Homo sapiens: one gene and its partners. The protein of the gene in region 2 purifies or fractionates together with the protein of the main gene of each other region. This does not show direct contact. Each region holds a gene or a part of one and is shown on either strand. Other genes may lie near its edges.

Region 1 (7,026 bases), on a different chromosome or scaffold from region 2:
TAGGAGAATCGCTTGAACCTGGGAGGCAGAGGTTGCAGTGAGCCAAGATTGCGCCATTGCACTCCAGCCTGGGGGACAGGGCAAGACTCCATCTCAAAAAAAAAAAAAAAAATTTAATAAAAGTACAAGTTACCTATGCTTATTATTGGAAAATATAGTCAATACTGGGACATTGTAATTTTAAAAATCACCTATTATTTCCCTTCTCCTTTCCCTGACCCCAGTAATGACTCTAAGCATTTAGGCATTAATCCTTCTGGGTGATTTTCTGTAGATTGATAGAAAGATTGATAGAGACAGGGAGATATCTTGGTTTTTTAACCAAAATTGGGTCAGGCCATATAAACCATTCAGAAGTACTGATTTTTTCTTTGTGTGTCACGTGTGTGTGCTGATTTTTGACAGCACTGTGAAGATTTCATCCACTCATAAGCAGGCCAGCTTTTTCCATCAGTGGAGTCCCCTGTACCTGCCCCAGAGCTGACGTGTGTTTTCTCTGTTGTCAGTTTACTGTCTGCTCCCTGGGCTGAATGAAGCCTTGCTCTTTGGAACAGTGTTTCTCAGCCAGGATGGGGTAAATGAGAATCTTTTTGGGTTTTTTCCTTACACTGCACCTGAACCCTTGACACCTGCTTCCCATTCCCCATGAGAAACCACAGTCACTCCCATATGCCGTATGGGGATGGAGGAAGAGTTGAAAATTCTCATTTCACTTGTTGAGATGGGGTCTCACTGTGTTGCCCAGGCTGGTCTGGAACTCCTGGGCTCAAGCAGTTTTCCACTTTCCCACCTTGGGCTCCCAAAGTGCTGGGGTTACAGGTGAGAGCCACTGTGCCCAGCCAAAATCCTCATTTTAGAGCAGCCCTTTTTAACTTCATCATATCTTGGAATCACCCAGGAGTTTTTTGTGATGGTGGTGGTGGTTTTTTTTAACCAATACAGATGGATGGGCTCCTGGCTCCGCCCCTCTCTTATTGGGAGTTGGTAGTGGTGGTAGGAGTTTTTGAAAGGGGTTCCTTGGGTGATTCTGGGGACACCTCAGTTAAAAGCCACTCCTTTGGAGCGTGCATCTGAAAACAACCAGCCAGAGCACATGGAACTTGCTTTCCAAGGTGCACAGGGCCACCCAGCCAGACCAGAAATGTCTCCTGAGAACCAGCTGCAACTTGTGTATGTCAGTAGCTTGGGGTGGAAGCAGCCAGGTATGGGGGAACATGTCTCAGACCACTCCAACTCCCTCAGTGAACCTGGGGCAGGTCACTTCATCCTCTGGGCCTCGGAGCAGAGACATGTTTCCTGACTGAGGGCTGCCATGAGGATCCGACGACACTGGAGGCAGGCATTAGGGGTGCGACACAGAGTGCATTATGTAGGGAAGGGCTTGTTAGTTTTGGAGCTCTGGGAGACATACTATCTTCTAGGTTGCAAAGATCTACCATCTTTCTTTCAGTGTCCTTTTGCTCCCTCCTGATAGTAATAAACATTGAACTTTTTTTTTTTTTTTAAGAGGCAGGGTCTTACTATGTTGCCCAGGCTGGTCCCAAATTCCTGGGCTCAAGTGTTCTTCTGCCTTAGCCTCCCGAGTAGCTGGGAATATAAGCACATACCACTGCACCGTGCTACTACAGTGAACACTTATTGGGCACTTACGTGTGCCAGGCACTAAGTGTGTTCACATATGTTAGCACTCTTAGAATTCGCCAGCATTCCCTGGAAGTAGGTGGTGGTATTCATCCCCATTGTACAGATCTGAAAATTAAAGTTCAGAGGTCAAGTGGCTCAGGTTACACTTGTTGGTGACACTGAAAGGATTCAGACCCAGGTTTCTCCTAGCCCCAAAGTCCAGGCTCTTAACAGCTGTTCCATCTCGATTACAAAGCTCTGAAATACCTGGGTTCTCAATGATGCCATGACTTGGCCATTTGAGTATATCATTAATCCATTCAACACACATTTACCCAGTACTTAACCAGTGCCCGAAGTTTCCTAACACACGCATGCCCAATTCCATTTCCCAGTCCCTTGAGAATGTGACCTGAGGCTCAGCGAGTGATTTGTAAAGGTGAGCTGGCCAGAAAGGCTCTGCCTTCTCAGTGTCTCAGAGGAAAGTGGCCCAGGTTCCTGTACATCCCTGGGAACAACCTGCCTCACCTTCCCCTTCTGCCCAGGCACCGCCTCGCATTTACACTGTCCTATTCCTGATGATTATCTTTTGGAGGAGGGAAATATTTTGGGGGTTAACTTAACACTCTTTTGATTTTGGTTTTATACAATGGAAGGTGAAACCTAGGCCCTTGTGCGATTGAGCCAGCATTCTCTGTGTGTGTCTGTGTGTCTGTGTGTGTTTGTTTTAAGACTACAATTTTTTTTTTTTTTTTTTTTGAGACAGGGTCTCACTCTGTTATGCAGCCTGGAGTACAGTGGTGCGACCACAGCTCACTGTTTCTTCAACCTCCTGGGCTCAAGCGATCCTCCTGCCTCAGCCTTCTGAGTAGCTGGGACCACAGGTGTGCGCCACCATGCCTGGCTAGTTTTTGTACTTTCTGTAGAGTTGGGGTTTCGCCATGTTACCTAGGCTGGTCTCAAACTCCTAGGCACAAGTGATCTGCCCACCTTGGCCTCCCAAAGTACTGGGGTTACAGGCATAAGCGCCTGCACCCAACCTTAAAACTACTGTTAATTAGCACTTACTACATGCCAGGTGCTGTGCTAAAAAGTTTACACCCCTTATTTAACTTTACGTTCCTGACAACCGTAAGAAGAGGCACTGTTGTTATCCCTGTTTTACCAAGGTGGGAAACAGGTTCAGGGAGGTTAAGTCACACGGCCAGTAAATGGCACAGTTGGGACTCAAACCCAAGTCTGCCTAAAGCCAATGAACAGACTTGGGTGTGGGGTTCAGACCATAAATTCGTGTCCATCCATGTTCCAATTCCAGTGACTAGTCGATTTTCTGTGTTCTGTTGTTTATAAAGCACCAAAGTCCCTCTCACCCACTTGTGTTTGCTTGTTTGCCTGTGGAACAGAGCAAGGTGATGTCACAACACCCACCTCAGAGCAAGTGGAGAAGCTAAAGGAGGTTGCAGGCTTGCCTGACGACTGTGCTGTCACCGAGCGCCTGGCTGTGCTGGCCTTTCTTTACTTATACCTGTCCATCTGCCGGAAGCAGAGGTGTGTGCGTGGTCTGGGGAAGGAGTCCAGATTCAGCCTCCCATGGAGAAAAAGGAAGAGTTTCTGTCATTGCTGCTGGAGAATGCACATGCTCTCTTCTAGAGCAGCAGCCATTGGCTGTCCTCATCATGTGCCAGGCACCCTGCCAGGCACGGTATATATGGCGTGCCTTTTTTTTGAGACAGGGTCTCTGTTGCTCAGGCTGGAACGCAGTGGTATGATCTCAGCTGACTCCAGCCTCGACCTCCCAGGCTCAAGTGATCCTTCCACCTCAGCCTTCCAAGTAGCTGGGACTACAGGTGCGCACCACCATGCCTGGCTAAATTTTTAAATTTTTGTAGAGATGGAGTCTCACTGTGTTGCCCAGGCTGGTCTCAAACTCCTGGGCTCATGTGATCCAACTGCCTTGGCCTCTGAAAGTGCTGGGATTAGAGGCATGAGCGACTGCACCCGGCCCCAGCCTCTCTGTTGTTGTTTTTGTTGTTTTTGTTTTTGTCCAGAACCCAAAGGGAAAAAAACCTCAAGGGGGCAGCCCTTCCCTTGAGCAGCAGATGCTGGCTCAGTGGCCAGGCTCTATGCTGAGGACACATTCGGAAACGGCCTGATACTTGCCGTCCGAAGCAGAATTTCAACTTGAGAGAGGCATGTCCCCTTAAGTGGGTGAGGGGCATTCCAGAATCTTCCAGGCTGGGTGGGGTGGGTACGTGGAATTTGAAGACGCACATTATTACAATTTTTCTATTTGGGAAATGGGAAAAGCACTTCGTGGAAATTACCAAACATGAAGTTTGACAGTTCTTGCTTGGGGGAAATACATGTAAGATGTAGCGATTCGGACCTTTCTGGTGATCAAAAGCAGACCCGTGTTACACATGGTTGGGGAGCACCGTCTGGCGGGAGAGGCCCCGGTGAACACACAATCCTAGTGTGCGGTGGTGAGGCAGCGGTGGAGGGAGGGAGGGCAGGCGGGGGTCCTAGAAGGGGAGCCAGGAGGGTCTTTGTGGGCAGCTACGGAAAGTGTCACAGTGGAAGCGACATTTGATAAGGCCTTGAGAGATGGGTAGGGATTTCTCTGTGGGATAAGGAGGTGCACGGCTATTGCAGGCAGAGGGGCCAGCCTGTGCTCAGAGCAGGCCCACAGAAAAGCCTAGCATGTGGGCACAGGAAGGAGGTGGGAGAAAGGGGTTGACAGCTTGCCAGGTGCTTCTGGGAAGGGCTCTGGTTGAATGACCCAGGGATTTAAATGAACTTGATACCTGTTTTCTAGTTGTCTGATTCAGCATGAGTTCCTGATGTTCAATAGGGATACATTTGGGGTCAGGAATTCTCCCCCAGTTGAGAAAACTGGACCAGATGCTTGGAGTCAGGCCTGGGCCTGGCCCCTGGTTCAGTGCTGGCACCCCACTGCCCTGCGGGAGAGTCACGTTTCACACCCTGGTGTGTTTCAGGGCCCTGCCGAGCCTGGATATCGTAGTGTGGTCGGAGCTGCCCCCCGGGGCGGGCTTGGGCTCCAGCGCCGCCTACTCGGTGTGTCTGGCAGCAGCCCTCCTGACTGTGTGCGAGGAGATCCCAAACCCGCTGAAGGACGGGGATTGCGTCAACAGGTAACCATGGTCCTTACCTGGCCAGTGTCCCTCCCGCACGGCAGGACAGGGACGTGGCTTCTCTCACTGAGACCTCACCACCTCCCTGTGAGGTGAGAGGTGTCATAGTGGCCATTTTAACATGAGGAAGCTGAGCCCCGAGAGGTCAAATGGCTGGCCCAGGGCCACACAGCTAGTGCTGGCAGAGTGGGATTTGAACTCAGAGTCTGAGCTTTTCTCTCCTGCTCTCCACCACCTCTGCTCACCCCCATCTTGGCTCTGTTGGTTTCAAGCGCCCATGGTATGGTAGAAAGAGCTGGAGTCCAGATCTAGAGGGCAGCAGGTTAGATGAACCCTCCCACCTCTGCATTGACTCAGGCTAGGACAGTGTTCTCCTCTGTATGGTAATGACAGTGCCCTAGGGGTGATTGTCCAGTTTTACCACATGGTTATGAAAGAAACTAAGAGTTTGCTGAGAAATCCACATTAGGGGGTGTGCCCATTAGACTAGGGCATCTCTCCTCCTACGGGGCCGTCTCCACGGAGGGCGTGTCACCTCTCTGCGTTCCTATTGACCACGTGAGTCAGTGAGGCCTGTCCAGACAGGCTTGACCACAGACCATTTCTATCATTAGGAGAATGTTCCTTGAGAAACCACCCAGTGCGCAGAGGTTACGCAGTTTGTCCCAGGACCAGGAGTTGTGGATGAGGCCCCCAAATGCAGAGCTCTGTCCTCTTCCTGGGCTTGTTTTTGTTTTGTTTTGTTTTGTTTTCTGAGCTTGGTTTTTTTGTTTGTTTGTTTGTTTGTTTGTTTGTTTGTTTTTTGAGATGGAGTCTCGCTCTGTCACCCAGGCTGGAGTGCAGTGGTGTGATCTTGGCTCACTGCAACCTCTGCCTCCAGGTTCAAGTGATTTTCCACGGGCCAAAGGACTGGCCCTGTCTTTCAAAAGGTGGAGGGTGACTGTGTGTGTGCACTTGCATGTGTGTGTGTTCTTATGCTGCTTCTAACCATTTCTCCCACCTTCCCCTGAAGGCCAGTCATTCCTTCTCAGAACCCTTAGGGAGAGTAGACCTCCCACCCCACCCCACCCCACCACACCCCACCCATCATGTGTTTCTGAGTCGGAAAGGACTGGAGCCCAGTCTCCTTTGAAGACTCAAATCTGAGCCCCCTAAAAAACAAACTGTGTAGAGCAGGAGGAAGACTCACATTTGTTGAGAGGGCCAGGCCCTGGGCTAGGTCAGCTGCCTGAGTTACCTTCCCCCGCCTCCATCACTCACTTCATCCCAGGCACGCTGCCACCTGTTGGTCCCTGGGAAGGGCCAGCCAGCTCTGGTGTGGTTCCAGTGCTGCACAAGTGGTGTGTCTGGAATGCACCCCACACACACACCTTGCCCAGCTGGCTCCCCTTGTCCTTCAGGCACCACCACCCCGCCCCAGCCCCCAGCAATTCAGCCCATCGTACTCTTACAGAAACACCTGGTTTGTTTTTGTTTTTGTTTTTTTAACTATATTATCATTTATTAAATGTAATTAGGTAGCTCTGGATCCTTGGTCTGTTTTTTTTTTCTTTTATTATTATTATACTTTAAGTTTTAGGGTACATGTGCACAATGTGCAGGTTAGTTACATATGTATACATGTGCCATGCTGGTGTGCTGCACCCATTAGCTCATCATTTAGCATTAGGTATATCTCCTAATGCTATCCCTCCCCTCTCCCCCCATCCCACCACAGTCCCCAGAGTGTGATGTTCCCCTTCCTGTGTCCATGTGTTCTCATTGTTCAATTCCCACCTATGAGTGAGAATATGCGGTGTTTGGTTTTTTGTTCTTGCGATAGTTTACTGAGAATGATGATTTCCAATTTCATCCATGTCCCTACAAAGGACATGAACTCATCATTTTTTATGGCTGCATAGTGTTCCATGGTGTATATGTGCCACATTTTCTTAATCCAGTCTATCATTGTTGGACATTTGGGTGGGTTCCAAGTCTTTGCTATTGTGAATAGTGCTGCAATAAACACACGTGTGCATGTGTCTTTATAGCAGCATGATTTATAGTCCTTTGGGTATATACCCAGTAATGGGATGGCTGGGTCAAATGGTATTTCTAGTTCTACATCCCTGAGGAATCGCCACACTGACTTCCACAATGGTTGAACTAGTTTACAGTCCCACCAACAGTGTAAAAGTGTTCCTATTTCTCCACATCCTCTCCAGCACCTGTTGAGAAACACCTGCTTTGAAGTCACATATTGCAGTGTCAT
Region 2 (7,026 bases):
CTCCCTCTTCCATTATCTTCCATGAAAAAAAGCTTTTCAGCCGGGTGCAGTGGCTCACGCCTGTAATCCCAGCACTCTGGGAGGCCGAGGCGGGTGGATCACAAAGTCAGGAGATCGAGACCATCTGGGCTAACACAGTGAAACCCTGTCTCTACTAAAAATACAAAAAATTAGCTGGGCATGGTGGCGGGTGCCGGTAGTCCCAGCTGCTCGGGAGGCTGAGGCAGGAGAATGGCATGAACCCGGGAGGCAGAGCTTGCAGTGAGCCGAGATCCTGCCACTGCAGTACAGCCTGGGCAACAGAGCGAGACTCCATCTCAAAAAAAAAAAAAGCTTTTCAAATACTTACCAATAGTAGCATAAACCCATTTACTAATACAAAATCTAGGGGTAATGTGTTTTTTGTGTGTGTGTGGTACTAGATAAACTTACCGCATATACATGTTCTCCATAAGCAATCACGCCTATTCCACTCCTCCTGCTTCTCATGGGTGCTATGACTGTCCACTGATTACTTTCAGTGTTATACACTTCTGCTGTGAACAGGCACTCGTTTCCATTAAACCCACCACATATGTAGACCTGTGTGAAGAGTTCCAAGATTATTAAAATTCCCACTCTAGGGAGTAGAAAGAAAGGATATGTGTGTGGTGGTAGTGGGCACTTAATTCCAGTCTGTACAGTCTGAATTTCTTTTTTTTGTATGTGCATGCATTGCTTTTTATTTATTTTTTAGAGACAGAGTCTCGCTCTGTCACCCAGGCTGGAGTCCATTTGCACCATCTCTGCTCACTCCGCCTCCTGGGTTCTAACAATTCTCCTGCCTCAGCATCTGGAGTAGCTGGGACTACAGGCGCACACTGCCACGCTCCGCTAATTTTTTGTATTTTAGTAGAGACGAGGTTTCACCGTGTTGTCCAGGCTGGTCTCGAACTCCTGAGTTAAGGCAATCCGCCCCTCTCAGCCTCCCAAAGTGCTAGGATTACAGGCATGATACACTGTGCCCAGCCTATTTATTTTTATTTTTTGAGATGGAGTCTCACTCTGTTGCCTGGGCTGGAGTGCAGTGGAGCTATCCCGGCTCACTACAACCTCCACCTCCTGAGTAGCTGAAATTACAGGTGTGTGCCACTGTGCCTGGCTAATTTTTGTATTTTTAGTAGAGACCGGGTTTCACCATGTTGGCCAGGTTGGTCTCAAACTCCTGACCTCAAGTGATCCGCCCACCTTGGCCTCCCAAAGTGCTGAGATTACAAACACAAGACACTGGGCTCTGCCACATTACACATTACTTTTTTTTTTTTTTGGAGACGGAGTCTTGCTCTGTCATCAGGCTGGAGTGCAGTGGCGCAATCTTGGAGCACTGCAACCTCTGCCCACTGCAGCCTCCGCCTCCTAGGTTCAAGTGATTCTCCGCCTCAGCCTCCTGAGTAGCTGGGACTACAGGCGCCTGCCACCACACCCGGCTAATTTTTTGTATTTTTAGTAGAGACAGGGTTTCACCATGTTAGCCAGGATGGTCTCAATCTCCTGACCTTGTGATCCTCCCGCCTCGGCTTGCCAAAGTGCTGGGATTACAGGCGTGAGTCACCGAGCCCAGCCTGCATTACTTTTTTTTTCTTTTTTCTTTTGAGATGGAGTCTTGCACTGTCGCCCGGGCTGGAGTGAAATGGCGCCATCTTGGCTCACTGAAATCCTCTGCCTCCGGGGTTCAAGCGATTCTCCTGCCTCAGCCTCCCGAGTAGGTGGGATTACAGGCGCCCGCCACCAGGCCTGGCTAATTTTTTGTATTTTTAGTAGAGACAGGGTTTCACTATGTTGGCCAGGCTGGTCTTGAACTCCTGACCTAGTGATCTGCTTGCCTCGGCCTCCCAAAGTGCTGGGATTACGGGCTTGAGCCACCGTGCCCGGCTTTGCATTACTTTTCAATAAACAACATAAAAGACAGTTGCAACTAGTCACCTTGTCAATTGAAGAAAGAATGAGTACTCCAAAGTGAATACTGCCACTGCGTCTTCCATCCACCCCAAAAAAGAGCAGTATCATTTCTGGTCTTGTACTTTGCATCCACATCTTCCCCTCCCACCCTGGTCCTTTACCTTCCCATAAAGTGTTGTGGCGCTTGCATCACTCCTCTGTTCGTGCATGGGGGCGATGAGTGTCCATTGATTGGTCTCTGGCTCATAACGTTCAGCAGTGTTTAGACGCACGTAGCCATCAAATCCTCCCATGGCATAAATAAAATTGCCGAGGACTGTCACACTGACATAGCAACGTCTGGAGTGCATCGGGGCCACCTGATGCCAAGTTTTCTTGACTGGGTCAAAACGCTTAACACTATTGAAATAGTCTACACTATCAAACCCCCCAATGATATACACATAGCCTTTCAAATAGGCTGCCCCATGGTAGGCACGGGGACTCTCTTCCTCACAAGTAACATTCACCCATCTGTCTGCCCGAGCGTCATATGCCTCAATGGCATTGGTGGGGCTCCCACCACTCCAGCCACCAATTGCAAAGAGGATGGCATAGGGCAAGCGTGGTCTGGTGAGTGGGTTGGTGAAATCAGAATTAGAGGGTCCATTCATGTTGAGGTCATACATGGCCTTTAGGGCATTAATGATGACTGGTTTGCATTCCTCACTGTCTTTGACATAGTCATTCATCTTAACATTGTTCATGAAGTACTCAGCATGCATTAGGGCCAGGCGAACCTAAGAAGCAAACGCAGAAAGTCATTCAGGTGACGTGAGAGTGCCAGGAAATCCCACATCCTTAACTCCCATTTTTCGATCTGCCTTTGAATTGCTGGAAATATTTTGGTTTGTTTTTGAAATGTATAAGTCACAGTTTAAATAGTCGATTTTGAGGCTCACACCATAATCCCAGCACTTTGGGAGGCCAAAGCAGGTGGATCACTTGAGGCCAGGAGTTTGAGACCAGCCTGGCAACATAGCAAGACCCTGTCTCTACTAAAAATACAAAAATTGGGGCCAGGCGAGGTGGCTCACGGCCGTAATCCCAGCACTTTGGGAGGCCGAGATGGGCGGATCACCGGAGGTCAGGAGTTCTAGACCAGGCTAACCGACATGGCAAAACTCCATCTCTACTAAAAATACAAAAATTAGCTGAGTGTGGTGGCACGCACCTGTAATCCCAACTACTCAGGAAGCTGAGGCAAGAGAATCGCTTGAGCCAGGGAGGCAGAGGTTGCAGTGAGCCGAGATCACCCTACTGCACTCCAGCCTGGGCCACAGAGCAAGACTCCGTCTCAAAAAAAAAAAAAAAAAAAAAAAATACAAAAACCAGGCTGAGTGCAGTGGCTCACGCCTGCAATCCCAACATTTTGGGAGGCCGAGGTGGGCAGATCACTTGAGGTCAGGCATTTGACACCAGCCTGGTCAACGTGGTGAAACCCCCATCTCTACTAAAAATACAAAAATTAGCTGGGCGTGGTGGCAGGTGCCTATAATCCCAGCTACTCAGGAGGCTGAGGCAGGAGACTCGCTTGAACTGGGGAGGTGGAGGTTGCAGTGAGCCGAGATCGTGCTACCACACTCCAGCCTGGGCAACAGAGCTAGACTCCAACTCAAAAAAAAAGAAAAAAAAAAAATTAGCCAGGCATGGTGCCGCGTGCCTGTAGTCCCAGCTACTCTGGAGGCTAAGGTGTGAGAATTGCTTGAACCCAGGAGGTGGAGGTTGCAGTGAGCTGTGATCACACCACAGCACTCCAGCCTGGGTGACAGAGTGAGACTTGTCTCAAAATAAATAAATAGTTGTCAGCCGGGCGCTAGCTCACACCTGTAATCCCAGCACTTTGGGAGGCCGAGGCAGGCGGATCACGAGGTCAGGAGATCAAGACCATCCTGGCTAACACGGTGAAACCCCGTCTCTACTAAAAATACAAAAAGTTAGCTGGGCGTGGTGGCGGGTGCCTGTAGTCCCAGCTACTGGGGAGCCTGAGGCAGGAGAATGGCGTGAACCTGGGAGGCAGAGGTTGCAGTGAGCCGCGATCGCATCACTGCACTCCAGCCTGGGCAACAGTGAGACTCCTTCTCAAAATAAATAAATAAATAATAAATATTTATTTACTATTTATTTATGGGGAGGTGATATATACATTTGGAAGCTGAGAATGAGCTAGATAGAAGGCACCTCAAGTGGCCAGAGAGCAATCCCATTCCTTGGTTAGTGGTCAGTACTATTAGACCAAGAAAAACCATGGTAATTGTTCAGTAATTGAGTATGTCTTAATATGTAAAATAACGCTTATTAGCACCAACTGACAACAATTGTGTGCAATACTTAAGATTTTTTTTTTTTTTTTTGTTAATTTGAGACCAAGTCTCTCTCTGTCGCCCAGCTGGAGTGCAATGGTGCGATCTGGGCTCACTGCAGCCTCCGCCTCCTGAGTTCAAGTTATTCTCCTGCCTCAGATTCCCGAGTAGCTGGGATTACAGGCATGCACCACCATACCTAGCTAATTTTTGTATTTTCGGTAGAGAGTGTTCTGCTATGTTGGCCAGGCTGGTCTCGAACTCCTGACCTCAGGTGATCCACCTGCCTCCGCCTCCCAAAGTGCTAGGATTAAAGACATGAGCCACTGTGCCAGCCATGATTTCTAATTCAACTTCTACCTTGGGTATGGAGAAATTCATAGAAAGGAAAAAAGCTGAAAGGAATTTCAGCCCTTTAGAATTTTTTTTTTTTTTTTGAGACAGGGTCTCGCTGTATTGCCCAGGCTGGACTGCAGTGAGGTGATCACAGCACACTGCAGCCTTGACCTCCCAGGCTCAAGCAGTCCTCCCATTTCAGCCTTCCACCCAGTAGCTGGAACTGCAGGCATGCACCACCAAGCCTGGTTAATTTTTAAATTTTATAATTTTTTTTTCTTTTTTTTTTTGAGATGGAGTCTTGTTCTGTCACCCAGGCTTGAGTGCAGTGGCATGATCTCAGCTCACTGCAACCTCCGCCTCCTAGGTTCAAGCGATTCTCCTGCCTCAGCCTCTTGAGTAGCTTGGATTACAGGCACCCACCACCATGCCCAGCTAATTTTTGTATTTTAGCAGAGATGGGGTTTCACCATGTTGGCCAGGCTGGTCTCGAACTCCTGACCTCAGGTAATCCGCCCATCTTGGCCAAAGTGCTGGGATTACAGGCTTGAGCCACTGCACCTGGCCAAATTTTATACTTTTTAAATTTTATAACCTATGTTGCCCAGGCTGGCAAACTCTGGGCTCAAGTGATTCTCCACCTCGGCCTCCCAAAGTGAGCCACCACACCCCACCTAGAATTATTTTGAAGGCTCTCTTCTTCCCCCACCACCAGGAAGGATTTTGGTCAAAGAATATAACTTAGGTAAAAAGAACTAGTAATGCCAAGGGAAAAGACAGTTGCAAAATTCCAGAGAATAGTAGATGCCTTCTATCTAAGGACATGTAAATACAGCCTTGGGATCTGTCATATGTCTGAATTTTGCTTTTAGGACAATCTCTCTGTGATAAATGAATCAAGAGTGAACACTGACCTTAGGAAGCAAAATTGAAATGTGCTGCTTTCTATTTTGGGGGTCATGAGAAATCCACTTTAAAATGGCCTCAAATACAGCATCTTCCTGTTTGACATTGAGCTCATCTTTCTCAATGATATCCTTAAGTTCAGTGACCGAGAGCTCTAAAAATTCTGCCGAGACTTTCACCATCTCCTCAAAGTTGTGCAGTATGAACATGTAGGCCTTCTGCCTCAGCTCAGGACAGTAGTAGTAGTCCGTGAACTTACAGATGCCGATACAATTATCCAAGCACAGCTCTGACTTGAGGAACTCGCAGCAACCCCTGACGATACCCATGATGTTAAACTGGTCTGCAGCAGCAAGCAGTTTCTCCACATTGTCCGGTGTGATAGGCACGGTCCGGGTGTATGCATACTCAATGATTAGCTTCATCATGTCGGGAGAAATGCCAGGGATGTTGTATACCTTCTTTTCAGTGTTGTTCCAGCCACTTGTAAACAAAGCTCTGGAAAAAAGAAAGAAACTAGCAGCCACGGAAACATTTCTCTCCTGTTAGGTGAGTACATTGGAAATGGTCTGAGAAAGTGGGGTGCAGGCATGTGCTATATACAGTGGACAAGAAGAACACCTTTCCAAGAACTCTGACTTTGGTCACTCTTACCTTGTGGATGGAGAAATTAAGATCTAGAACTGAGAGTAAGACCCAGGTCTCTTGGGCCAGGCGTGGTGGCTCACGCCTATAATCTCAGCACTTTGGGAGGCCGAAGCGGGTGGATCATGAGGTCAGGAGTTCAAGACCAGCCTGGCCAACGTGGTGAAACCCCGTCTCTACTAAAAATACAAAAATTAGCTGGGCATGGTGGCACATGCCTGTAGTCCCAGCTACTTGGGAGGCTGAGGCAGGAGAATCGCTTAAACCTGGGAGGCGGAGGTTGCAGTGAGCCAAGATCATGACACTACACTCCAGCCTGGGGGACACAGCGAGACTCTGTCTGAAAAAATAAAAATAAAATGGCCACTCACTGCTTTTTATCTTCCTTTTCTTATTTTCCCAGGCATTTATGATGATTTGATATGCATTTTACTCATTTAATGCCTGTTTCCCCATCCAGGGGGTAAACTTCATGAGAACAGGAATGCTTCTCTTTTTATTAATTGTTTTCTTTTCTTTTTTTCTTTTTTTTTTTGGAAACAGGGTCTTGCTCTGTCACCCAGGGTAGAGTGCAATGGCATGATCTTGGCTCACTGCAACCTCCAACTCCAGAGTGCAAGCAATTTTCCTGCCTCAGCCTCTTGAGTAGCTGGGATTATAGGTGTGTGCCACCACGCTCAACTGATTTTTGTATTTTTTAGTAGAGATGCGATTTCACCATGTTGGCCAGGCTGGTTTCATCATATTGGTCAGGCTTGTCTCGCACTCCTGACCTCAGGTGATCTGCCTGCCTCGGCCTCCCAAAGTGCTGGGATTACACGGGTGAGCCACCATGCCCGGCTTTTGCTTCCTTTTTTTA
Region 3 (7,026 bases), on a different chromosome or scaffold from region 2:
TCTGGGATCCAACATCAACCACAATGTAGCTGCCCCGGGGGTGAATGCTGGAGGGTTCTGGCGCTGGCAGCACAGCCAGCCACGAGTGTGTGTGTGTGGGAGGGTCAGGCATCAAGGGGAGTGTGGGACCTCTGGGAGTCCCCCATCCCATCCCACAGTGTCAAGCTGGTAGATTTCCAGGGAGAGTGGGGAGTGGTGGGGAGGACTGAGACAAAGAGGAGCAAGTCAATTCCTCAAGGTTTTGGATTAAAACCCAGGAGTCCCACTGTCTCGATGAAATGTCCTTCTGGATGACTCAGGAGTAGAGATGAAAACTTCAACTTCTCTCAGAGGCTTCATTCTGCCAGCCTGCCTAGCCTTGGGTTTCTGCTCCTTTGAAATGCCTTCTCTCTCTACTATGTTCTCTCCTCCTCTGCCCTGCCTGCCCATCTCTGCTCCTTTCCTTTTAATAACCTCCCAGTTAAGCGAATCGAATGGGAAGAAGCAGTTAAAAGCAACTCATGGCTTGACAATGCTGGGTAATGGAGCGAGCAAGGCCCCGGGCTGTTCCTGGGAGAATTCAGGAAGGAGGAGGAAAAATAATAATAATAAAAAAAACTCAGCTAAGCTGATTACAAGGACAAAGTTAATTTAGAAATCAGCTCTGTTGGGTGGGAGTGGGGGGTGGAGAGTACGGAACTGGACACAAGAGGTTGGGAGATTCGATTTGGGGGAAGTGTGCTTTATATAAACTGCCTTTGTTCCTGGAAATCATAATCCTTGGGAGGGACCAGGGTTCACTCCTTCGGATTCCTCGGCTCCTTCCATCCGGAGCAGGGGGTACAATCGGGGATTGTCCAGAGCTTGGATATCTCGTGGCACCACATTCCAGAGGCCCCGCAGCCCCTGAGCCTCACATCTGTGGCCCCCTCCCTGCCCCTGCTCCCTGCTCCACTCCCCCTCACTGGACGGTTAGGCTTCAGCATTTTTCACATACCTCTCTCACAACCTTTATCTTATAAAATTGTCAATATGTGTTTATACATCCATCTCCCACACCATACTGAGAGTGCCTCAAGAACAGGGACTAAATCTTACCTACCTTTTCATTCCCAGGCCTAGGCCCAGCACAGCCATTTAAAAAAACAATGCTCATAAGTTGAACACATGCTCTCACCCCCCCTGGTGGGACCCTCTTCAAAGGACTCCATTTGAAAAACCAGAGCTCACTTCCTAGCAGAGGTTTTAAGAATCTTTAGGCTCAGCTCCTAAATGCACATGTATCTAAGGCCACAGACCAGTGGAAATGGCCCAGAATTGACCCTGAAGGGACTAAACCCGGATGGGCCCTCTGATGGAACCAGATGGCTCCCCTTGACTCTGGGCAGTGTAGACATGGCCCAAGCTTGGGGGGGACAGGTAACAAAGAGCCTGGCCTCAGAGTCAGGCTGCAGAGCTCTCCTCGCAGTTACTGCCGTTGAACTCTGCCTCCAGGCATCTTTATCTTATACTGAAGTATTCTCAGAGGAAAAGATTTCCTCATCCTTCCGAAGTCTCTCTGGCTCAAGTCACAGATCTGAGACTTCCCAAGGCAGAGCTGGTATTTCTCTAAGGTTTTCTGCTCACTTCTGCCTGGCCAAACCTTGGTTATCTGTTTTTTTCATGTTTTTAATTGGAGGGGTTATAAATTTCCATAGTGTCTCCAGTAGAAGAGGTGTTTAAGAGGAGGGGAGGCTTTGGTGAGAAGTGAGATGGGGATTATACCTGTTTTTAACACACCCTTTGTCTGCTTAAAAAACAGAAATCCATTGCTCCCCAGTTCTTACAGGGGAGTCTTTGCAAGAAGTCTTTGGCCTGGCTTTTCCAGGCCTCCTCTGGTCTGTCCCCATTCTGCCGTTCTGGATCATCTCATCTGTTTCTCCCAAACCAACCCAAATCCTCAGTCCAACTGGCCTCAGTGTCCGCCACACATCCCACCAGCAACATCTTGGTTCCGGAAGTCTGGCCCATCTGGTAAGGCTCTCCCTCTTCCTGCCACATCCATGTCCTGTCCATCCTTGGGCCCCACTTCCTCCACGGAGCCCTTCCTGGTCACTTCAGCCCACAGCAAAGTCCCTTCTCTGGACTCTCTAGCTCTGACCTGCACACTGCTATCACGGCACCAATGACTCCACACCTTGCACCACCAGCAGTCTTCATGTGTGTATATCTTAGTTTCTTAAAAGGGAAGGACCACCTGCTGTCATATTTTTTGGTCCACATAATGCCTACCAGTATGTTTTGCATATAATAATGTACAGTTGATGATTAAAAAAATAATTCTCCTGATTTGGTGAAAGAGAGAACTGAGGCCTACTGAGATTAAGTAATTTGCACTGAAATCACAAAGTGAGACCTTCAAGGGCAGAGATCTAGTACATTATTCACTTTGCAACACTGGAGCCCAGCACACAGTAAGCACACAATTCTCTTCCGCTGAATGAAGGAACAAAAGTCCTTCCTCTTTCCACACATCTTTCAGTGAAGATATATTCCTCAGACTGCCTCAGAAGGAAAGAAGGGGCAAAAAGAAAAGGCATCCAATGGCCTAGTCGATTCTGAAGCGGACCTAGGATGGGACAGCTTCCTGGGATAAACCTGCTGGGCACAGAGTACACCTCCAGACACTCGGGTTCCTGTTATCCCTTCCCTGCCTCAAAACCCAAGACCCACAGCATTCTGGGTGAGTCTCCCATCACCTTCCAGAGCCAGATTGCAAAAGGAATGAAGCGGCAGCATTCTCTCCTGGGAAACTAATGGAATTTGCTAGAGAGTTCTGGAGATTTCTACCCCTGGATTTAAGACCCTTAATCCTGAGGAGGTTGACTGGCTGCAAGGCTCATTTATTTCAATACGATGCCTATTTTGTTAAATGGGCTCAAGGAGGGCAGAGAGGGATGAGGACTGCAGCCCCTGGAGACAACAGAGGTTAATAAAAGTGGCTGAATAAATTAAATATGGAGGGAAGGACAAGCTGGGAGCTTGGAGTCAGCTGATAGAGGGAGAGTAAGTGGGATAGAAAGAAAAAACAAAAGTGTCATACTTCAGTGATGTCTGCGAGCTACAGCAGCTTTTATCCTGGATGCTCCAAGAACTTAATTAGGTTCGCATTGTCTGACAATCAGACGTAGGAAGGTATAAGAGCTGGAGCTACAGAATGGAGAGGGACCAGTGTTACAGAATGAGGAACCCCAAGCTTCTTTCTCAACTTTCATAACTTCACAGTTTGTGCATCTATCAGAGAGGATGCAGGGCATGCAAGGCAAGGCAAAAAGTAGTGCCTTTAAAGACACAGGAGGGCTGCTATGGCTGGAAGAAAAATGACTCACAAAAATGTACTACTGTTGCACACTAGTGCTCTGGTGACTGAAAAGGCTTGGGTAAAGATGAGAGATATCTGTCCAGATGTGTATGGGGATGGGGATAAGAAGTGGGTGCATGTATAGCTGCACTATGAAGGCATGTGTGAATACATATGCATATGCATATGCATGCAGTGAGATTGCATCCACACGCTTGCATGCAGCAGTAATGCAGAACAGGTAGGTGTGCAGTCTTCCTTCTAGGAATTATCCTCAGCCCCCACCCCATCTTTCCTGCTTGGGTTCTAGTTCTGGCTCTGTCACTTACTAGCTGGATCATCTTGGACAATCTGCTTAACTTCTTTGGATCCCTGTTTGTCCATCTGTAAAATGGGGATAACACCTAACTTCAACAATTATGTCAGTATTGAATTAGTTACTAATGCATGTAAAATACAAAATTGCCCTTCACAAAAGTGAACGGATTTCTCCCCCACTCTGAGAGAGCCCATTATTTTTCCTGATTTCTGAAATTGCCTCTTCCTCCTCCCTGGTTTCACATTTGAGGATCAAGGACATGACAGCCTCTTTCTCCTCTACTGCTGACAACCCACCCCCACACCCCCATCCTTTTCCAGGTCAAAGAACCCTCCAGGAGATTGCCAAGTAAACTGGTCCAGAGGCCCTGGGAAGAAACCAGACAGGAACTGGTAGGTCGGGAAGGGGCATAACTTTCTCATCTCTGGACATATGAAGAGAAATGTCTCTAGCCTCAGATGGAAACATCTCCCAGAAATTGGGGAGATTAAGGAATTTGTCCCCATCCCTTCCCTCCATACCAACTGCCACCCCTTTGCAATTTATTTAACTTCTCTAGGTCTCTGTTTTCTCATCTATTAAATGGAGAAACAACTCTCCTGCCTACACCATAGGATGAGTGTATCTCTCTATCAAATGGTACATGTGAAAAGTTGCTAAAATTGCCAAGCACCATACAGGTACAAAGATAAAAGACTCTAAACGTGGGAGGAAAAGGATTGAGGCTTTCCAAACCTCCTTCTGACAAGGGGCATTATTTACTGGTCCCAGCCCCACTGATTAAAACATGTATCCTGACATCTAAGTTTTGCTTCACAAATGATCATCAAAGCAAGGCAGGGAGATAGATGTGTCCTTGGAATTTCTGGGCTGAGAACTAGGGAAGGGGGCTGAGCTGAGTGAGGCACCAGGAGAGGAAAAAAGGCCTAGGCTTCCCTCCTGTCCTTCCACAGCTGCCTTAACTCTAAGAAAGGCAGGGTGTGGCTCTTCTAGGCAGGCTGAAGGGCACTCATGGCGCTTAGGAGGGAGACAAAAGAGGGGTTGAATCTGGGGTCTAACACCTCAGGTATGCCCTTCAGCAAGTTACTTAAACTCTCAACTGTGGTTTCTTCATCTATAAAATGGGAGTAACATTAACCTGAAAAGCACACTGTAGGAATTCAATAAAAGGTAATTTTGATGCTTTGGTATGGAGTTCACCTCCTACAATCACTTTTCACCACCCAAGGCCAGGCAGTTCCCCAGGGCACAGGCTAAGAAGGAGGGTTGAAAGCCTCCCCAGGCGGGTTAGAACAAGCCATCTAAGACCCTAGCCTCCAATCCTACCAGACTACCAGGGACCAGACAAATTTGGAAGCTGACACTTGGGGAGATCCTGGTCTCAGGATTATCCCCTAGACCCCTTCTCAGTGCTTCTTTTGCCTCTGTATGGCTCTGGGCCTCTCCAGGAGTCAGCCTTGCATGGAACAAGAATAATTCCCAAATTTGTAGTTCATGGACCTGTAACAAGGCTGTGTTTAATATTAGAAACAAACCTTTTTATTTGCCAAGTCCTTGAAAAAAGTCATTTACTAGATTTATCATATCATCAAAGAAAAACAATTTAACACCAAAAAATGTAGGACAGAATCTCAGAATAAAGGATTGTTTTTTAAATTTGAATGAGTTTACCTTTATGAAATACTCACTCCCTTTTCTTCCTAGTTCTCATTCTGCTATGGACCAGGAAAATCCCTGTCCCAGTCCAGCATCAGTCTCTGCTGGCATGTAGGATCTGGCAAAGGAGAAGGGTGCAGGCTGTGGGATCCACTGGTTCCTACAACTACCAATAAGATACTTAATGTATCTAAACCTCAGTTTCTTGGCCAGGTACAGTGGCTCACACCTATAATCCCGGCACTTTGGGAAGCCGAGATGTAAGAAGCGGTTGAGCCTTGGAGTTTGAGACTAGCTTGTGCAACCTAGCAAGACCCATCTCTCCAAAAGAAAAAAAAGAAAATTAGCCAGGTGTGTGTGGTCCTAGCTACTTAGGAGGCTGAGGTAGGAGAATGGCTTGAGCCTAGGAGGAGGTTGCAGTGAGCCATAATCACACCACTGCACCCTAGCCTGGGCAGCAGAGCAAGACCCTATCTAAAAAAATAAATAAATAAATCTCAGTTTCTCATCCATGAAATGGGGATAATTTACACAGCCAATCTCAGGGGGCTGTAGCATAGATTAAATTAGATAATGCATATGAAGTAGTTACACAGGGCTCAATAAATGATCCATATTATTTCCAGACTCTGAAATGCTGCCACCTCGGGGCTAGTGTCCCTCCTCATTTCACACAAGAGCTCTGGTTCCTTCTCACTCAAGTGCCAACCTCTTCCACTTTTGCTCTCTCTCCTCAAATCCCTTCCCCAGATCTTTTCTGAGGTCTCCAAGGAGGGGGTCAGTTTCCCCTTCTGGGTCTGCCACAACATAGTTCTTTCCATGAGAGATACAAAGAAGGCACTTACTGAAGCCCAGGACCAAGAATCTGGGGAGCTGGAGCTAGAAAACACACACACACACACACACACCCCACAAAGAATCATAGGGAGAAGAAAAGGAAGCGCAGACAACTTGACTGCCTGTCTATCTATGTCTCACCTCAAAGCCAAGATAGCAAGCATTTACTGAGCACTTCTCGCTGTGCCAGACACTGTTCCATGTACGTTACATGGATTAACATATTCAAGTGCCACCACAACCCTATGAGGTATTACTTCCATCCTCACTTCTGGAAGAGCATGCTGAGGCACAGGGAATGTACATGACTTGTTCAAGCTTACGACTACCAAATGGTGGAGGTGGGAGCTGGATGCGAGTCTGTGATTTAATCGCCATCGAATGCTGCCTCTTTCCAGCACTGCAGCGCGCTCATCAAATCAATCAATTGATCAGATATTTAAGGGGCACTTACCACCAGAAACTATAGGATAAAAGAAATTAAGACTTAGTCCTTGTAAGGGTGTAAAGAGGTCCTAGGGGGGCAGAGGTGGGGCTTCCTCCTCCCATCTCACTGGAGCGCCAAAGGCAGAGCCAGAACAACCAACCACTCAGCTGTGGGAAGGAGCAGAGGCGAGAAGGCCTGGATGCCTCCTCCTCCTCCTCCTGACCAGGTGCTCTGGGGCCCAGGGCTGAGGCACTGAGTACTTGGTTCACACCCTCCCTTTGGGTCTAAGTGAGTAGAAGGCAGAAAGTGGAGTTCAGTCAAGGTCAAAGAGAGGAACCCAGTGTCCTGGTTTCTGCCATGTCTCCCCTGACTCTTCCCCAACCTCAGCGCCCTGCTCTGGGCAGAAGTGGGACATCTAAAGTGTGTATATGTGTCTATGTGTAGCACCGAAAGGGGAGAGTCCAGTTA
Region 4 (7,026 bases), on a different chromosome or scaffold from region 2:
TTACTCTGAGAGGATAAAGAAAAACTTCAAAGATCTACTTCCTATCTGCTGCAAAGAGGATGAACTCTGGTACTGATTTCATCACATGAATCTGTGAGGCCTGTCTCTTAAGAAGAGTGAATTCTGATTATACATATTCTCTTTCCCTCTTCATTCCAACTGCTGGACTATTTGCCAAAAATAAACATTGTTAAATCTGTTTCAAATGCAACACGAAGCCTGCTTTCTTCTACCCCTGTAAGATCTTATTCATAGGTTTCTCTAAGTTCTTTTAATAGTTTCTACAATCCCACAAAGAAGGTTTTTTGGGTCAGGAAAGAGTAAGGAGATTTTATTTCACAAGTAAAACAGTAATTTTTTTCCTTCACCAGTAAGATGGGAATAATATGAGTACTCATCTCAAATGGTTATTATGAGAACTAAATAATGCTTTTAAAGTGATTAGCACATTGTCTGACATTCAAGTGTTCAACGACTGTTGATGTACGTTACCTTCCTCTGATAATATTAACTAAATTTTAAAGGATAATGTCAGAAGAGTTAACATTCAATGCTAACTACTAAAATATTTTATCTTCAGTACCTGGCATGCATCCAATAAATGGTTTGTAACAATACATTCTTCCTGAGGTGAGTTATGGAACTAGGTTATTCAGCAGTAACTAGACACCTGTAACTCCACTCCAACCTCCTGCCACCTTCTTCGCAAACCTTAGGCTCACCTAATTTCCAAACAAACTTTTTCATAAACACCATTCAGGCAAGTTGCGACTAAAAATGCAAATCTAAATAAAAGGTACTTTATAGATATAATGTAACAGTTTACTTATAATTCATTTTTCTTATGGAACTTTGTACAGGGACAAATGCAGCAAGTAACTATTTGATACTTAGATTCTTCAATATTAAAAGTTCAATTACAATCTTTGAATTAAATAGACTTTACCAATTTTTTTCTTGTTTTGTTTTACTCTTTTAAGTATACAGAATAAAACTAAGATGTTTCTTTTTACTCTTTTAAGTATACAGAATAAAACTAAGATGACTGAAGGATACAGTTTCATTTAATACAAACCTTCTTGTACTCTATCCTAAATACTAGGAAATAGAAAACAATTCCATATATGTGTTATGAAACTCCAGATCTGTAGTATAAAACTGTAGCTAAAACTGCTTTCCAAAACTTACTGACAGCTAGGGCCCCACATGACCTAGATTCACCAAGCAGATATGCTGAATGAAGATTTGGAAGGAGAACATGGCCTACCTGGGTTGGGAGGACAGAGGACCAGGAACCAGGATGGTAGTAAAGGGTTTTGTTCATCTGGGGTTGTCAGTGGTGGCTAACACGGAGTGGGCTAGGGGAATTAAGGTAAATAGAACCTACAGTGCTAGGCTATTTAAAACAGGCAGCTCTGTAGCAGGCCAGTTCAAAGGTGTGGTTCTAGAAGTTTCTAGAAGTTGAAAATACTGTCTGTTCCTTTAGGTCTCCCAATGTGTCTGGAAACTATTGTATTCCCTCTAACAAATCTCTCAGTTTAAACCAACCGATTTAAATTCTGTTGTCGAAAACTAAGAACCCTGACCAATAAACTAGAAAAAAAGAACATTTCAATGAAAGTCAATAAACTTTTCTAGAGTTCACAAATATGCACAAGCTTTTGACATCTTCAGTAGAGTTTTACATCTGCTCTATTTTGATTCATGTGATAGGCACTGAAAATATATGTGAAATATATATTTAATACTGGTGACATGACAATTTATTCTAGGAATTCCTTTATAGATGATTGATCAATTTTCATTAATCAAGATGGTCTTTTTTCAACCCTCATGTATTAATAATATCAAAACAAAAAGGAAAGTCTAGGAGTTAGCCTTTAGCCTAATTTCAATTGACAAAAATAATTTCAATTACTAAAAAGCAGAATTAGAAAATACATGGGAAATGAATCAAATTTTGCTTTTTGTTAATTAAATAAATAATGAGTGCTCCAAAGTCACAAATCTTTATTTGTGATATTTAAACTTTAATCTGGATATTTAAATTAAACTTAAATCTGGATATTTAAACTTTAAAAAATTATAAAACCAACTTCAACTAAAAGAAGATTCCCTCAAAACATCAAAGTACATTGTTAAACTTATTTGGATATAAAATAATCACTGAATCAAAATGAACTGAAACAACTGTAAAGACATGAAGTCTTGTGTATAATATATCGATCTGAACCAAATATTTAAAAGAATCAGGCAGAAGACTCAATGTTAACATGACTTATAATCTATTTTACAGATTCTGACAATACAATTTTCCATAAAAATGTAAACTTCTGAGGACATAGTTTTAAAAACCATATATTTTTAAAATAATATAAATATGTTAATACCACCTATATAAACTCATACTATAAGGAGCAGATTTTATGAACAATTTGAGTCTCCTGACAGCAGTAAATGTTATCTTAAAAAAATAAACATTTATAAATTATTTGAGATGAAAAATTTTTTATATTTTAATAATCTAACGTTTCTGGCTACATTGCAGGTATTTTCACATATATCTCATGAATCCATGTAATGAGTCATCGAAACAGAATTATCCCCATTTTTCTTAAAGCAACTGAATAGTCTGAAGTACAGATTACTTAGGTAACTTAACAACGAAATAAGTGGTAGAACCACATAGGAACCCAGATCTGCCTAACTTTTCCAAAGGATTTTTTCTATTAGACTATTAAATTATTATTAGATTTTTGAAAGGTAACTCAATAGCAGTTCAGTAATTTTTTCATACATAAATATAAAACATAAAATATTCTACCAAATAAACATATCTTCCATCTAAATTAAATGTAAAGAGTTAAAGGGAGGAATAGGGTATGAACTTTGGTCTTTGAAGATAAAGTTGAGTGCTCTTGACTAACCACGTGATAGGAAATAATGAAGACTCTATAAAGAAAAATCATTATGTAAACAGGGTTTCCTAATACTTTTTCTACTGAATTAAACTTTTTTGAAGTTTACTGACCTATTAACCAGATCTGTTCAATGGCCTAGCAAAGGCAATGGTAGACTGTCAGAGGCAATAGTCATTTTCATTTGTCACAAGCCTGGTAATTAAACTCATTAGCCTGCCAATCAACTGCACTGCTAGTGAAATTTGTAAAAGCAGAATGAAATAGCTTACCGTGCACATGGATGTCCTTGTGATTTTCAGGGTAAAATCTGATGAAAATTCCAAATCTGAGATAGACGTCGTATGGCAATCTATATGCTACCCATTAAAAAGAAGTGAAGAAAGAGCTTAGTAAAAATAGTCCAAAAAAAAAAAACAAAAAATAAAACAAAAACAACCCAGACAAACATTACTTCTTTTATGCACAAATGATTATTGGAAACCAAAGTTTTGCAAACTTTACTCACATGCTAATTTTTGGAATTATTTATAAGTTTAAGGAGTACTAGTACTATCATCTTGTTAATTTTTTCTTAAATTCATTTAACTTAGGCTCCTTGTAAACAATAGTATTTATCAAATCATAGTGCTAATGTGCTAAAGTTTTCCTGACACACTAAAATAAATACTTTCAAATAAAAAATGTTTTCCTGTGTTTCACCTAACATCATTTTGCCTACTGTGTATGGTACACCCACCACAACTGCTATAAAATATGTGTGATAACAGTCAATACATTTATAGGAACTGCCAACTTGAAAACACATGCTAATGAAAAGAAAGTTGTTTTAAAATTCATGTCTATAATTGAAGATAAGTTTTGTTAGATATGAGGAGAAACCACACAATTCAAACAAAACAGCAAAACTATGGAGATTTCGATCCAGAGAAAAAATAGCGAAATATCTTTATTTTCCCATTCTGCCCTTTTTCAAATCCTTCTCCATTATACTTTGGAGAAGGGATGGAATCACCTTTCAACTACAGCAGTCTAACCAGAAGTGTGCTGTAAAGACCGTCATCAGCTGAGTAGATCCAGCCAGGAGTAGATCATAACCCAGTGAATGCAATTAATGTAACCACACATCTGAGACACTATTGAAAACAATTTGAGAAAACATTTTAACAGTACAATGTGTTTGTGGGAGGACTGGAAAATACAGAACAAACTATTTACTTAAATAAATGTTAAAAAAAAAAAAAGAGTACATACACTTTTTAACACCTTATTTTCAGGTCTAAATTTTTCTGTCTCAACTATTTATTCATGGCAGTTTTTGCATTAAGCAGAGATCACTAGAGAGAGAAATCAGCAACCTCCACCAACTCTCCTCTTTCTGCTCAACTTTAAGGCTTAGTTGGTTATAACTGTACACTCCTATCCTGAGCCAAAGAGCCCAAATAAACTCTTTATTCTCACTGTACCAGAGCACTGAAGTCGTATAACCATCAAGCAGACTGTTTTTCTTAAAAGCTGAACGCACTTTTAATCAGCCTGCTCTTGTTAAGAAACTTCACATTTATTACTCTATACTATTAATGCTTTATCCATTTAAGAAAATTAAATATGTACTAAATATCTGCTTTGTACAGAGAAGAAATATTGATGCTATATGAAAGTAACAGCGTGATTAAAACGAGAAGACAGCACTTCGGGAGGCCGAGGCAGGCGGATCATGAGGTCAGGAGATCAAGACCATCCTGGTCAACACGGTGAAACCCCATCTCTACTAAAATACAAAAATTTAGCCAGGCATGGTGGTGCATGCCTGTAGTCCCAGCTACTTGGGAGGCTGAGGCAGGGGAATCGCTTGAACACGGGAGGCGGAGATTGCAGTGAGCCGAGATTGCGCCACTGCACTCCAGCCTGGGCGACAGAGTGAGACTCTTTTTTTTTTTTTCTCTTGAGACAAAGACAATATCCTGAACCTAACACTGAACATACTGCTCTAGATTTGATTATCTAGTTGAAACAGACCAAGAGTTAAGAAAAGCAGTATTGTTTTTTGCTGCAAAGTTATTAGTGAACCCATGTAAATTCAACATAGAAAAATTCATAATAAACCCAGAGATTAACATGGCAAAAAATAAGATGACAAAACACAAAAGGAATTAACTGAGAAATCTGAACATAGTAGGGCTTTCGTTTCATGGGCAAATTTACTATATGTAATTACTTAATCTGAAAACGCTGGAAGAAATCTGAATGAGAGAAGTTAAACTGTGTGGAATATATGACACGAATGAATAATCTGGCTGTAAATGAGAAGCTAAAATAAGGCTGGGGAGGATGATGAAGCAGAACTGATAATACAGCAGGACTTTTTACCTTATTAAGCCAAAGTAAATATAAATTATTCAACCGGTTCAGAGTTAGATTTGAAGGACTGTAAAACTGAGTGTAAGGAGTTTTAATATACAGAGAAGTGATTCTAAAGAGATGATATAGTCAACTGGTAAATATTATGACCTCAATTTGTTTTAGACTGATTACAATGGGAAAAGTACTGTTTTGAAAGCCCATATATAAAATCAATATATTATTTTCAAATGCTGAACTAAGAAAAATAGCAATACCATTATAAAAAATAAAGTTGGTAAAACACCTACCTTAATACCACAAGGTTCTGAAATAAGAGTCTTCGGATCTAAAACTTCCACAACAGCTTCTGGAATAACTGCTTTCTTCATGCAGGACATCTTGAAGCCATAGACATCATCCCAAAAAGCAATTCTATCAGCATGTTTATTCACATCACTCACTGCTACAAGGCTGATAGTGCAAATGTCAGGGTAGACTGTAACAAACAAAATGCCCAACAATTAAGCATTATCTCCCTTTCTTATGGAATATAATTTTTTAAAGCCTAAATATAAATATCAAATCCATCAGTAAGGATTACTAGCAATGGGAGATTAATGAAGGTATAGATCAGGAAAAACAACCATGCTTCATCTTGTAGCCTCTTTTAAAAACAGATACGCATTATCATGATGATAAAATTAAAACAGGGATTCCAATGATAGGGTTTGAATTAAAATAGGGTTATATAATTAAACAATTCTGAAATAAACATATTTATTGATATTAAAACTTAAAGTATGCTAACTTAAAAGGTACTAGATCTTTACTTATTCCTATATTCCTCTAAAAACATGCAGAAAAGGACAAATCATTTAAAAAGATATGTAGCATGTAAGAAAATCATGTAATAGGGTTTTATAGTTATACAGAAGACCACTTCATATTACTCTCATTTAATAGAAAAATATTTATAAGCATAAAGTATGTGCCAGACACATGTGCCAGTCTAATTTACAGACTATGGACACATATCACTATCCTCAATAAACTTATATTTAGACTATTTTGAAAAAGAAATGCATAGTTATTTGTGAGGTAATAAATACTAAGAACAGGAGCATCCAAGGTACTAAGGGAGCTCATGGCAAAACCAGCTAATTCAGACTTGGCTGGAGCAGGGGAGAAGGGATAATATATAAGATAAGAACTGAAGCCCAGTAAGTTGGGAGTGGGGAGGGAAAGTGTATTCTAGGCAAAGTGAGCAGCAGTGTGCATAAAGGGTCACAATAGATGGGATGGCCCATATACAATCTAATTGAGAGAGAAATAAGACACAAGGCTAGAAAGGTAAGTAGAGACCAAAGACTACATGCTGAGTAAACCAAATTAGTAAACTGGACTTAATTCTAAGAATAATGATAATCCAGTAAAAAATTTTACATAGGGTAGCAACATGACTAGATTTTGATTTTAGACAAACCACCTGGAATGCAATGTGGAGAATAATGGGAGGGTCTAAGATGAAAACAGAGACAAATTAAGAGATAGTTAAAATAAACCAGGTGATCTGAACTAGGATATTGCTGTGGGAATGGAAAGGATGAGATGTATTCAAGGGATATTTATGAAGTAGAACTCAGAGGACTTTGAGGCTGAGTGGCTGTGGGGCAAAAGGTCAAGGATGACAGTATTTAGCTTTAGTAACAGCACAGATTGTGGTACTAACCATTATAATAGGACATAAATATGGGCAGATTCAAAA

What was found.
Region 1: the proteins of KLHL10 (region 2) and MVK purify together in Homo sapiens (co-immunoprecipitation; 3 studies listed by BioGRID and IntAct, with this or other methods). This does not show direct contact.
Region 3: the proteins of KLHL10 (region 2) and KIRREL1 purify together in Homo sapiens (affinity purification with mass spectrometry; 2 studies listed by BioGRID and IntAct, with this or other methods). This does not show direct contact.
Region 4: the proteins of KLHL10 (region 2) and PRMT3 purify together in Homo sapiens (affinity purification with mass spectrometry; 2 studies listed by BioGRID and IntAct, with this or other methods). This does not show direct contact.

What each region holds. Positions count from the first base shown.
Region 1 is NC_000012.12:109,576,776-109,583,801, forward strand, and holds part of MVK (mevalonate kinase), read left to right. Parts: intron 1-2,389; exon of another isoform or gene 2,390-2,507; intron 2,508-3,026; coding exon 3,027-3,171; intron 3,172-4,619; coding exon 4,620-4,775; intron 4,776-7,026. UniProt on the Homo sapiens protein: Catalyzes the phosphorylation of mevalonate to mevalonate 5-phosphate, a key step in isoprenoid and cholesterol biosynthesis.
Region 2 is NC_000017.11:41,840,817-41,847,842, reverse strand, and holds part of KLHL10 (kelch-like protein 10), read right to left. Parts: intron 6,021-7,026; coding exon 5,531-6,020; intron 2,718-5,530; coding exon 2,100-2,717; intron 583-2,099; coding exon 433-582; intron 1-432. UniProt on the Homo sapiens protein: May be a substrate-specific adapter of a CUL3-based E3 ubiquitin-protein ligase complex which mediates the ubiquitination and subsequent proteasomal degradation of target proteins during spermatogenesis.
Region 3 is NC_000001.11:157,996,645-158,003,670, reverse strand, and holds part of KIRREL1 (kin of IRRE-like protein 1 isoform 1 precursor), read right to left. Parts: intron 1-7,026. UniProt on the Homo sapiens protein: Required for proper function of the glomerular filtration barrier. It is involved in the maintenance of a stable podocyte architecture with interdigitating foot processes connected by specialized cell-cell junctions, known as the slit diaphragm.
Region 4 is NC_000011.10:20,460,711-20,467,736, reverse strand, and holds part of PRMT3 (protein arginine N-methyltransferase 3), read right to left. Parts: intron 5,758-7,026; coding exon 5,570-5,757; intron 3,278-5,569; coding exon 3,191-3,277; intron 1-3,190. UniProt on the Homo sapiens protein: Protein-arginine N-methyltransferase that catalyzes both the monomethylation and asymmetric dimethylation of the guanidino nitrogens of arginine residues in target proteins, and therefore falls into the group of type I methyltransferases.